2 separate regions of the Homo sapiens genome follow, and region 1 is linked to region 2. Evidence: fine-mapped expression QTL. Tissue or cell type: whole blood. Region 2 holds a variant in brackets; the other region holds the start of a gene. All regions are shown on one strand. Distances are between the middles of the regions. Region 1 holds the start of MFAP4 (microfibril associated protein 4). Region 2 overlaps EPN2 (epsin 2).

What was found. PIP is the estimated chance that this variant, and not a neighbour inherited with it, causes the effect.
Region 1: it holds the start of MFAP4, and the variant in region 2 is the best candidate, but not a certain one, in a credible set for the expression of MFAP4 in whole blood (TOPMed, PIP 0.75).

Annotation. Positions count from the first base shown.
Region 1 is chr17:19,384,704-19,389,086 of GRCh38, forward strand. It overlaps MFAP4 (microfibril associated protein 4), which reads right to left and starts at 2,487. Exons shown (of 6, transcript NM_002404.3): 1 at 2,447-2,487; 2 at 2,057-2,135; 3 at 1,607-1,761; 4 at 655-751; 5 at 396-578; 6 at 1-6. The coding sequence starts at 2,452. RefSeq lists enhancers at 775-1,320, 1,321-1,866, 1,867-2,412.
Region 2 is chr17:19,288,693-19,293,075 of GRCh38, forward strand. All of the region lies in intron 4 of EPN2 (epsin 2), which reads left to right. Among named protein-coding and RNA genes, the nearest start is that of EPN2-AS1, 15 kb to the right of the region's middle. RefSeq lists an enhancer at 928-1,521. The variant C/T (reference allele first, on the strand shown) is at 2,002.

The DNA of each region.
Region 1 (4,383 bases), 96 kb after region 2:
AGTCACCTGGCAGAGGAGAGAAGGGTTGGGGCTGCTGAGGCAGGGAACTGAGCCCCGAGCTGGCCGGGAGAGGGTGACAATGACGACTGTGAGAGATATCACGTGGCAGCCTGGCGGGATGGGGGCACCCTCCCTGAGCCAGATGTTGGGTTGATGTGCTTCTGCAATGAAGAGAAACAGCTGCTCCACCACAGAGTTGCCTGGAGCAGGGCCAGGATGGCTGCTCCCCAGGGCTGAGGCCCAAGCTGGTTTGAGCTTGTTTGGAGCCAGCTGTGGCCCTTCCAGATCCAGAAGGGTTGAAGGAGGGGCCTGAAGGAGGTTGGGGCTGACTGGGCAGGGCCAGCCCTGCCTTCTTTCCCCTCACAGCCCCTCCCAAAGCTAACAGCGGGTTATACCTGCCCCGCCATCCTCAAAGCCTGCCACAAAGAGGGTGTAGCCATCCTCCTCTGCGCTGACCGCGTTCGGGGAGATGGAGAAGTCAGCGTACTTGGCATAGGCCGTGTTGTTCTCAAAGTCCTCCAAGTCCACTCGCAGCTCATACTTCTGCTTCAGTGTCAGGAGGTGCATGTTCTGCAGCCCTGGGGAGGAGGGGCAGCTGGTCAACAAGGACCTGGCCCTGGGGCAGCCCCTCAGCCCACCTGGTCCCTGCCTTACCCAGCCAGTACTCTCCATCAGCACGGCCGAAGCCCAGCTTGTAGTCATTCCAGCCGCGGAAGAAACTTACTGAGCCATTGAATCTCTTCTGGAAAACCTGGAGCAGAGAAGATGAGACTGGATCATCAAGGGTCCAATGGGCAAGGTTCTGGTCCTGCCCTGCCCACCTCAAGCATGGACCCTGTGATGCTGTGGCCAGTTTGTTAAAGGACTGGGTTGGGGGTGGGGAGGGTGGTGGGAGTGGGGTTGCTAAAACAACGTCCACATTGGCACCAGGCCCCCTGTGGAGCAGTTGCCAGCACCCACCTGGGCTCTTCATACCCAGTTTCGTATAGAGGCAGGAAAGAGGCTAAGAGGGAGGCGTTCTAGAGTTCGAGTGCCTAGCTGTGGGATCTGGGCAAGTTACTTCACCTCTCTGGGCTTTAGTTCCTCACTACTTCCCAGGATTATTGTGAGGCTTATGTGCATTAACCTACCTCAGCTGGGCGCGGTGGCTCACGCCTGTTATCTCAGCACTTTGGGAGGCTGAGGCGGGCGGATCACCTGAGGTCAGGAGTTCAAGGCCAGCTTGGCCAACATGGTGAAACCTCATCTCTACTAAAAATAAAAAAATTAGCTGGGCATGGTGGCACATGCCTGTAATCCCAGCTACTCGGGAGCCTGAGGCAGGAGAATCTTTTGAACCTGGGAGGTGGAGTTTCCAGCAGTGAGCTGAGATGGAGCCACTGCACTCAAGCCTGGATGACAGAGTGAGGCTCCGCCTCAAAACAAACAAACAAACACCTACCTCAGGCACTTAGAATTAAGCGTTGGCAGCTGCTCAGAAGCTGTGCTGTGGGTATCATTATCCCCATTTTAAAGATGAAGAAACTGAGGTTCGCATATGTGAAGCCCAGGGTCACAGGGCTGGGATTAGAACCAGCTCTGGCCTCTGTTCCCTCCTCCCACTCACCGTCCACTTCCCGCCCTCGGTGGTCATGTCACAGAAGACGGGCACAGGCACACTGGGGCCCGAGGGGTAGATGAGGTACACGCCGTCTGACTGGTAGCCCTGGGCATAGATGTCGTCACAGTCCAGGGGTTGCTGAAGGCAAAACCTCTCCAGAGCTGGGGGTAGGGACATGGGGACAGTGAGGAGAGTGGGACTATGGCATCACTGACACCTCAGCACCCCAAGGTTTGCCTCAGTCCCTGGGGCTGGGGGACTTTGACACAAGGAGTCATGGAAGATTTCTTCAAGGGAGATGAGCAATGCTTATGTCATCCATCTGCCCCATTTTGTAAAGGAGGAACCTGAGTCCTGCAGAGCTGGGGCTCGGCCCTGACAGTCTGTTCTGACAGTCCAGCCTCTTCTTGCACAACCTGTGGGCCAGGCCGCGTCTGTGAGTGTGGGGCTGCTTACCATCTCCTCGGATCCCGGAGACCTGGGGGGCACACGGGGGCGTGGAGAGAAGCAGCAGCAGCGGCAGGGCCAGGAGTGCCTGGCGATGGGCAGACAGGGTCAGCACAGCCCCTTCCCAGCTCCAGAGATCCCCTGTTCTCTTTGCATTTGCCCCCACCATGCATGCACATACTGCCCTTGCCTGAATCCCTCTCCTGCTATTTGGCCCCTCTTCCCTGCCCCCCCACCCCGCCCGCCAAGTAACCCCACTCTCTGGGACGCTGTGTACCCTCATAGCTTACGAGTTTCAAGAGAACTCCTTGTGCCTTCATAGTGCCCTCTGTGGCCAGGGGCCTCTGGAGTGGGCTCAGTTCCCCCATGCTATGAGTCCCCCGACCCTGGGCCCCGTACCTTCATGCTGTCAGTTCTGCTCAGAGTGGCTGGGTGTCTGCGGCCCCAGACTGCAACCGCCCAGAGTTATGCGCTGGGCCCCCGCCAGCCGCCCCAGCCCCGCCCCCCTTCCCGTAGCTGCAGAACCCCCCTCTCCCCACCCCAGACAACCAGCATCAGTTTACACTATCAGGGGGCTGGGAGGTGGGGCTGGAGCCAGGGGACCACCTGTGTCTCATTAGTCCTGTCGGGCAAAGTACTGCAGACGTTAACTCCCTGCTGGCTCCAACTGTTCCCTGGATCCCACTCCATCCGCTATCCGCCATCTGCCACCCACCCTGCTAGACCTGTGGGCCCCCTGGCGCCCCCAGGCAGCCCCAGCCCGCCGCAGCCTGCCCCCTACTTCCTGATGGGCCCCCCTGCAGATGTCTGTTTATTCTTTCCCCTCCTTCCCTGGCCTGTGTTTCATCAGCCATTGAGGGGGAGGGCTGAGGGAGAGTGGGGGTGTCATATGCCTGGCTTCTGGGGACGGGAGGCCTGCTCTGGGGGAGCAGAAGGCTGAGGGGACAGTTTCAGAGCTCCTGATGTGGGAGCCTGGCTGGGGCTGGTGGGGGGACAGAGGCAGCAGTTTCTTGGCAGGCCTGGGACATTTCTGAGCCATGAGCACAAGGCTGCTGGCGTCCAACTGCTCTGTCTGCCCCAGCTCAGGCCAGGGCCCCTCTCCAGTCCCCCTCCCCAGCCCCCCTCACTCTGGCCACCTCAGGCCCACTCTTTTCCCCTCCCACAGTTCCCTGGCCCATCTGGCTCACATGCAATAGGTATGGGACCTCTTTTGTTTCTCCTCACTCCACCCCTCCTTTCTTCTTCCAAACCCTTCACTTTGGCTCCCACACCTCCCAGATTCATCTGAATCTCCCTACTTCTGGGCTCTCTCCTCCTATCCTTGGCACACTACCAGGAGAGTTGTTCTAGATGGCCTCTCAGATTATGTCACCCTGCTTAAAGCCTCATGGCTCCCTATTGCCTCAGGGCTGAGGCTAGGTTTCTCACCTTGGACATGAAAGGAATTTCAAGTCTGTCTCTGGCCTACCTTGAGGACCTTGTCCCTTATTGCTGTGACTCATAAACTACAGTGCAGCCACTCCAGACTTTTCACCATGGAGGTCCCCACTCTTTTGTGCTGCTCCTTGTGGTGCCCGCTCATCTGCCTCCTTTTGTTGGCCATAAGGGCCAGTGAGCAGGGTGTGTGTCTCATTTCTGCATGCTCAGTGCCCATCACAGAGCCTGGCACAGAGTAGGCTTGATATGTACATGCACAGTCACTTACGTATTTATATCTATATATAGATAAGATACTAGAGTCAGGGCCTTGCCCTGTTGCCCAAGTGCAATCATAGCTCACTGCAGCCTCAAGCTCCTGGGCTCAAGTGATCCTCCCACCTCAGCCTCCTAAGGAGCTAGGACTACAGGTGTGCCACCACACCCAGCTAATTTTTTAATTTTTTTGTAGAGATGGGGGGGGTCTCCCTATGTTGCCCAGGCTGGTCTTGAACTGGCCTCAAATGTTCTTCCCACCTTAGTCTCCCAAGAAGCTGGGACTACAGGGCCAGCACACCTGGCTCACAGATATCTTTTGAGCGCTGTGTGCTATAGGCTATGCTGGCTGCTGAGGATACAGTATCTGCCCCACAAGGAGTGGCAAGCACAGGTTTTGGACAGTGAATTGCAAATGTAAGGTGTATTACAAAAGGACATTTGTGTTGAATGGATGAACAGATGAAATATTCAAAGGCAAAGTGATGAGGCAGCTCTGGCTTAGGTCCCATCTCTCCACTCCTGAGTCAATAGATAAGCCCCTTGGCAAAGCCCCAGTTGGCCTCCCTGACTTGGTTCTGTGATTGCCTCTATTCATAGTTGTGTCTTGTGTCAGGCTACCTCAGTTCAAATCTAGATTCTGT
Region 2 (4,383 bases):
GGGCCTCTCAACTCTGTCTGGTTGGGAGCATTCCTTGAATTCCTAGTCCATCCAGACGGGTCCTTTTGTGTCCATGTTTAGATGTTGTGCCGATGTCATTGCTAGGAGCTTTTGAAACACTTTCACTGTGCTTACCTTGCAGACCATGCACTCAGTGGCCCGGTGCTGGGCCTTCTGGGTTTATGTCAGAAATTTCTTTGACTTTCACTCACAGTGAGATGGGGGAAGATGAGGGTTAGGAGGATCCCTTGGGGTGTGTATGGGCAAGGTGGGAGCAGGGAGCCAGGTCAGGAGGCCACTGTCCCCATCCAGGTGGGAGATGGTGGGGGTCTGGACCTGGCAGGGCTGCAGAAATCTGGGCAGTAGCCAGGTTCTGGGTATGTTTTTTTTTTTTTTTTTTTTTTTTTTTTGAGACAGAATCTTGCACTGTCACCCAGGCTGGAGTGCAGTGGCACGATCTCCGCTTACTGCAAGCTCTGCCTCCCGGGTTCACGCCATTCTCCTGCCTCAGCCTCCCAAGTAGCTGGGACTACAGGCGCCCGCCACCACGCCCGGCTAATTTTTTGTATTTTTAGTAGAGATGAGGTTTCATCATGTTAGCCAGGATGGTCTTGATCTCCTGACCCCGTGATCCGCCCACCTTGGCCTCCCAAAGTGCTGGGATTACAGGTGTGAGCCACCGCACCTGGACGATTCTGGGTATGTTTTAAAGATGACCTGACAGACCTTGCTAGAGGACTGGGCAGAGTGAGAGGGGAGCTGAGGATGACTCTGAGGGCTGGGAGCAGAGCAGCTGGAGGCAGAGCTGCCATCATCTGAGATGAGGGCGGCTGTGGGTGCAGTAGGTTAGTGGAGGGGTTGAGTTCAGGACACATCGAAGTGTCTCCTAGACACGCAAGTGGAGGTGTCAAGAAGGTCTGAGAAGTCTGGAGTTGGGGGGAGAATTCTGGGCTGCAGGCACACTTTGGAAGTTGTCAGGGCATGGACAGTGCTTATAGCCGTCAGCTGTTCGGCCTCACCTGGCGCTCATGGTTTTTTTTTTTTTTTTTTTTGAGATGGAGTCTCACTCTGTTGGCCAGGCTAGAGTGTAGTGGGGTGATCTGGGCTCACTGCAACCTCCGCCTAGCTGGCTTCAAGCTATTCTTCCTCAGCCATCTGAGTAGCTGGGATTACAGGCACATGTCACCATGCCTGGCTAATTTTTGTATTTTTAGTAGAGATGAGGTTTCATCATGTTGGCCAGGTCTTGAACCCCTGACCTCAAGTGATCTGCCCAGCTCGGCCTCCCAAAGTGCTGGGATTACAGGCGTGAGCCACCATGCCTAGCCTCTGGCACTCATGTTTACTTGGTGGTCTTGTAATTTCAGACACACCAGCTGCCCTCCCAAGGCTGGCTCCTCTTAAGGCTTACCCGTGTTGGCTGCCCTCACATGATCCTGGCATGTAGTCAGTGCTCAGGACAGTTGTGTGTGGGCAGAAGCTGCGCAGCCCAAAGGAGGACCCTCAGGCCCAGGGGGTTGAGGGATTTGCCTAAGATCACGCAGAGATGGCAGCTGGCCTGAACTGCAACCTGGTGGGGGTGAGCAGCCCACATGTTACCCGCCCCCCGGGCTCTTTCCACCATTTCCTGTTCTGTTCTGCAGAACTGGCCACAGTGTCAAAAGGCTTTGGAGAAATTACAGAAGTTCTTGGGGTAGACGGAACCTACATCAAAGGGAGGCAGATGGGGATGAGAAAAGCATTCCTGAGTCAAGGAATGGAAAGAAAGATTGCTGCTGTCCTCTCACCAAGGACACTCTAAGGCCAGGGGCCAGATCTTCTGCCTTGGCTGGCCTCTGTTGAGGGTGGGTAAGGGAAGGAAGGAATGCTCAGCTTGGTGTTCTCAGCCCCCTTGCTGAGTCTGCGGAGCCAGAGCTACAGCTGTCTTGATGCTCCCTGAGCAAGTCCCGAGTTGCCTGGTACCTTGCAGTTCTTGGTGGGAGTTTAACTGCCCAGCATTCC[C/T]GTTCTCAAAAAAAAAAAAAAAGAAAAAAAAAGAAAAAGGAAGGCAGGCAGAATAGAAATCTTCATTGCTTTCTGATTCACTCAAGTGAATCAGAACCAACTTGGGTTCTGAAACCAAAGTAAGCAGTGGTGGGCTTTGTACCAGGTGGGGGCTGCTGCCTGCAGCCGGGTCTTCTTGGCTCTCCTCATGGCCCCTCCTGTCTTGCTGACGCCGCTGGCCCTGGCTGTAGTATGCTTCAAGTCTGCTCCCAGAGAAATGACAGGGATTCCTTTGGGCTACTGGTCCTCTGGGCTGAGAGCCCCTTGTGCTGAGGCTGCTCCTCTCACACCCCACCCGGCAAGGGTTTGCCAAGTGATTACTAGAAAGGATTTGAGTTGGCTTATAAAACACATGCAATGCCACAGGATTCAATAGATACCAGAAGAAATTGGGGCAAAAGGAAAACAGAGGTGAGAAAGAAAAGCCAGGATTGTATACAGTGGCTAGAGATGGATCCAAATTTGGTTTGATACTGTGCAGCTGGGAAGGCCAGAGTGTCAAGCAGCCTGCCCAGGACTTCATGGAGCAGTGGCCGTGATCATTGTCCTGCGGCATCACCCCAACAGCTGCTGCTGCTGTCCGCCAGGCCTTCGGGCCATGCCTCCACTCTCGAGTGGCCTGGCAAGAATCTAAGGGGAAACAGGATTTCTCAGGGAGTGGAATGGCAAGGCTATCCACGGTTATCAGCCATTCATTTTTTTTTTTTTTTTTTTTTTTTTTTTGAGACGGAGTCTCGCTCTTTCGCCCAGGCTGGACTGCAGTGGCGCTATCTTGGCTCACTGCAAGCTCCGCTTCCTGGGTTCACGCCGTTCTCCTGCCTCAGCCTCCTGAGTAGCTGGGACTACAGGCGCCCGCCACTGCGCCCGGCTAATTTTTTTTTGTGTTTTTTGTAGAGATGGGGTTTCACCGTGTTAGCCATGATGGTCTTGATCTCCTGACCTCATGATCCACCCGCCTCGGCCTCCCAAAGTGCTGGAATTACAGGCGTGAGCCATCGCGCCCGGCCTCATTCTTAAACCCAATGGGGACTTGGTAGAATTTGAAAGCTTTCTTGTGCGCTGTTTCATGAGTATGTCCAGGAAGTCCCCAGGCACAGTGGGCCCTCAGAGGACTCTCTACGGAAGCTGTCTTCATAACAAGGGAACCTCAGGGGTGAACCAGAGTTGTCATGGCCTCAGCCCTGCTTGCCCAGCTCTGGGAATAGAGCTGAAGCATGCGCACACACAGACACATGTGCACTTACACCAGACATGTACACACAAAGGAGAGTGTTTTGGTAAGAAGGAGGCATCTGAAAAGGGAGTCCTACATGGGTCTACTTTTGAAAACTCAAAGATGTGGGAAAATATATTGTTAAAAAAAAGAAAAGCCAAACCCAGCCAGCGTGTCAGAAGTGCTTCTGAGGTGGACCTTGGAAGGATCCTGGGCCAGCTGAGGTCTCCTGAGAGTGTGGGAGGTGACAGAGCTCCAAGGTGCAGGGCTGAGTGATGCTGCCAGGAACTAGGAGGGCAGCAGGGCCCGCCCGGGGCTGAGAGGTGGTTGGTGGCCACCAGCCAGGTATTTCCTAGTGTCAGGCCAGGGATAGCTACCTGTGGGGAGTGTGTCTAGCCCTCAGGGCCCTTCCATTGGGTTTTGGGGATGGACCAGGAATTTGGTGGGAGATGAGACTCATTTGGCATCTTGTTTTGGTGGAACAAATGTGTTCTGTAAGTCAGGGGAGCCCTGCATCTTCGGCTGGCAGTCAGTCCCAGGGGCAGAGGCACAGCAGGGCTGTCAGCGTTAGCTTACTCTAGAGAGAGTTAATCTCTTCAGGTGGAAAATTGAGTCATGGAGGAAGCTGATCAGTAACATGAACACACCCTCAGAGGCAGCAGATTTATTGACACATCTATCCAAGTATCAGGTATAAAAGATGCTCGTTCTTGCCACAAGGGCTTGGGTTTTAAGTGGGATTTGAATGTGATTCGTGAATGGCTGGGCTGCTAAAGTCAGACAGTTGCCCAACACAACCAGAAGGCATCTGGATCACCTCTCCTGGGCCTTTGCCTTCTCTTAGGAGGAGTCCATTTGCTTCTCACAGTTGTCTAGAAGGTAGGCAGGGCAGATGAGGTTAATAAGGAAACTGACATGAACTTGCTCCCCTAAATCCTCTCATTTGTAAGTGAAGAAGCTAGAATTAGAACTGGGATTTTGAAGAACTCTGGTTCTCTTTCCTCTACTTGACAGTTTTTGAAATTGCTTTAAAATTTTTTCTGCAAAATAGGCAAATACGGTGTACACCTATTACAATTTTAAAATTATATGGTTCATCTTATATAATGCTTTTTTCTGTATTATTATTT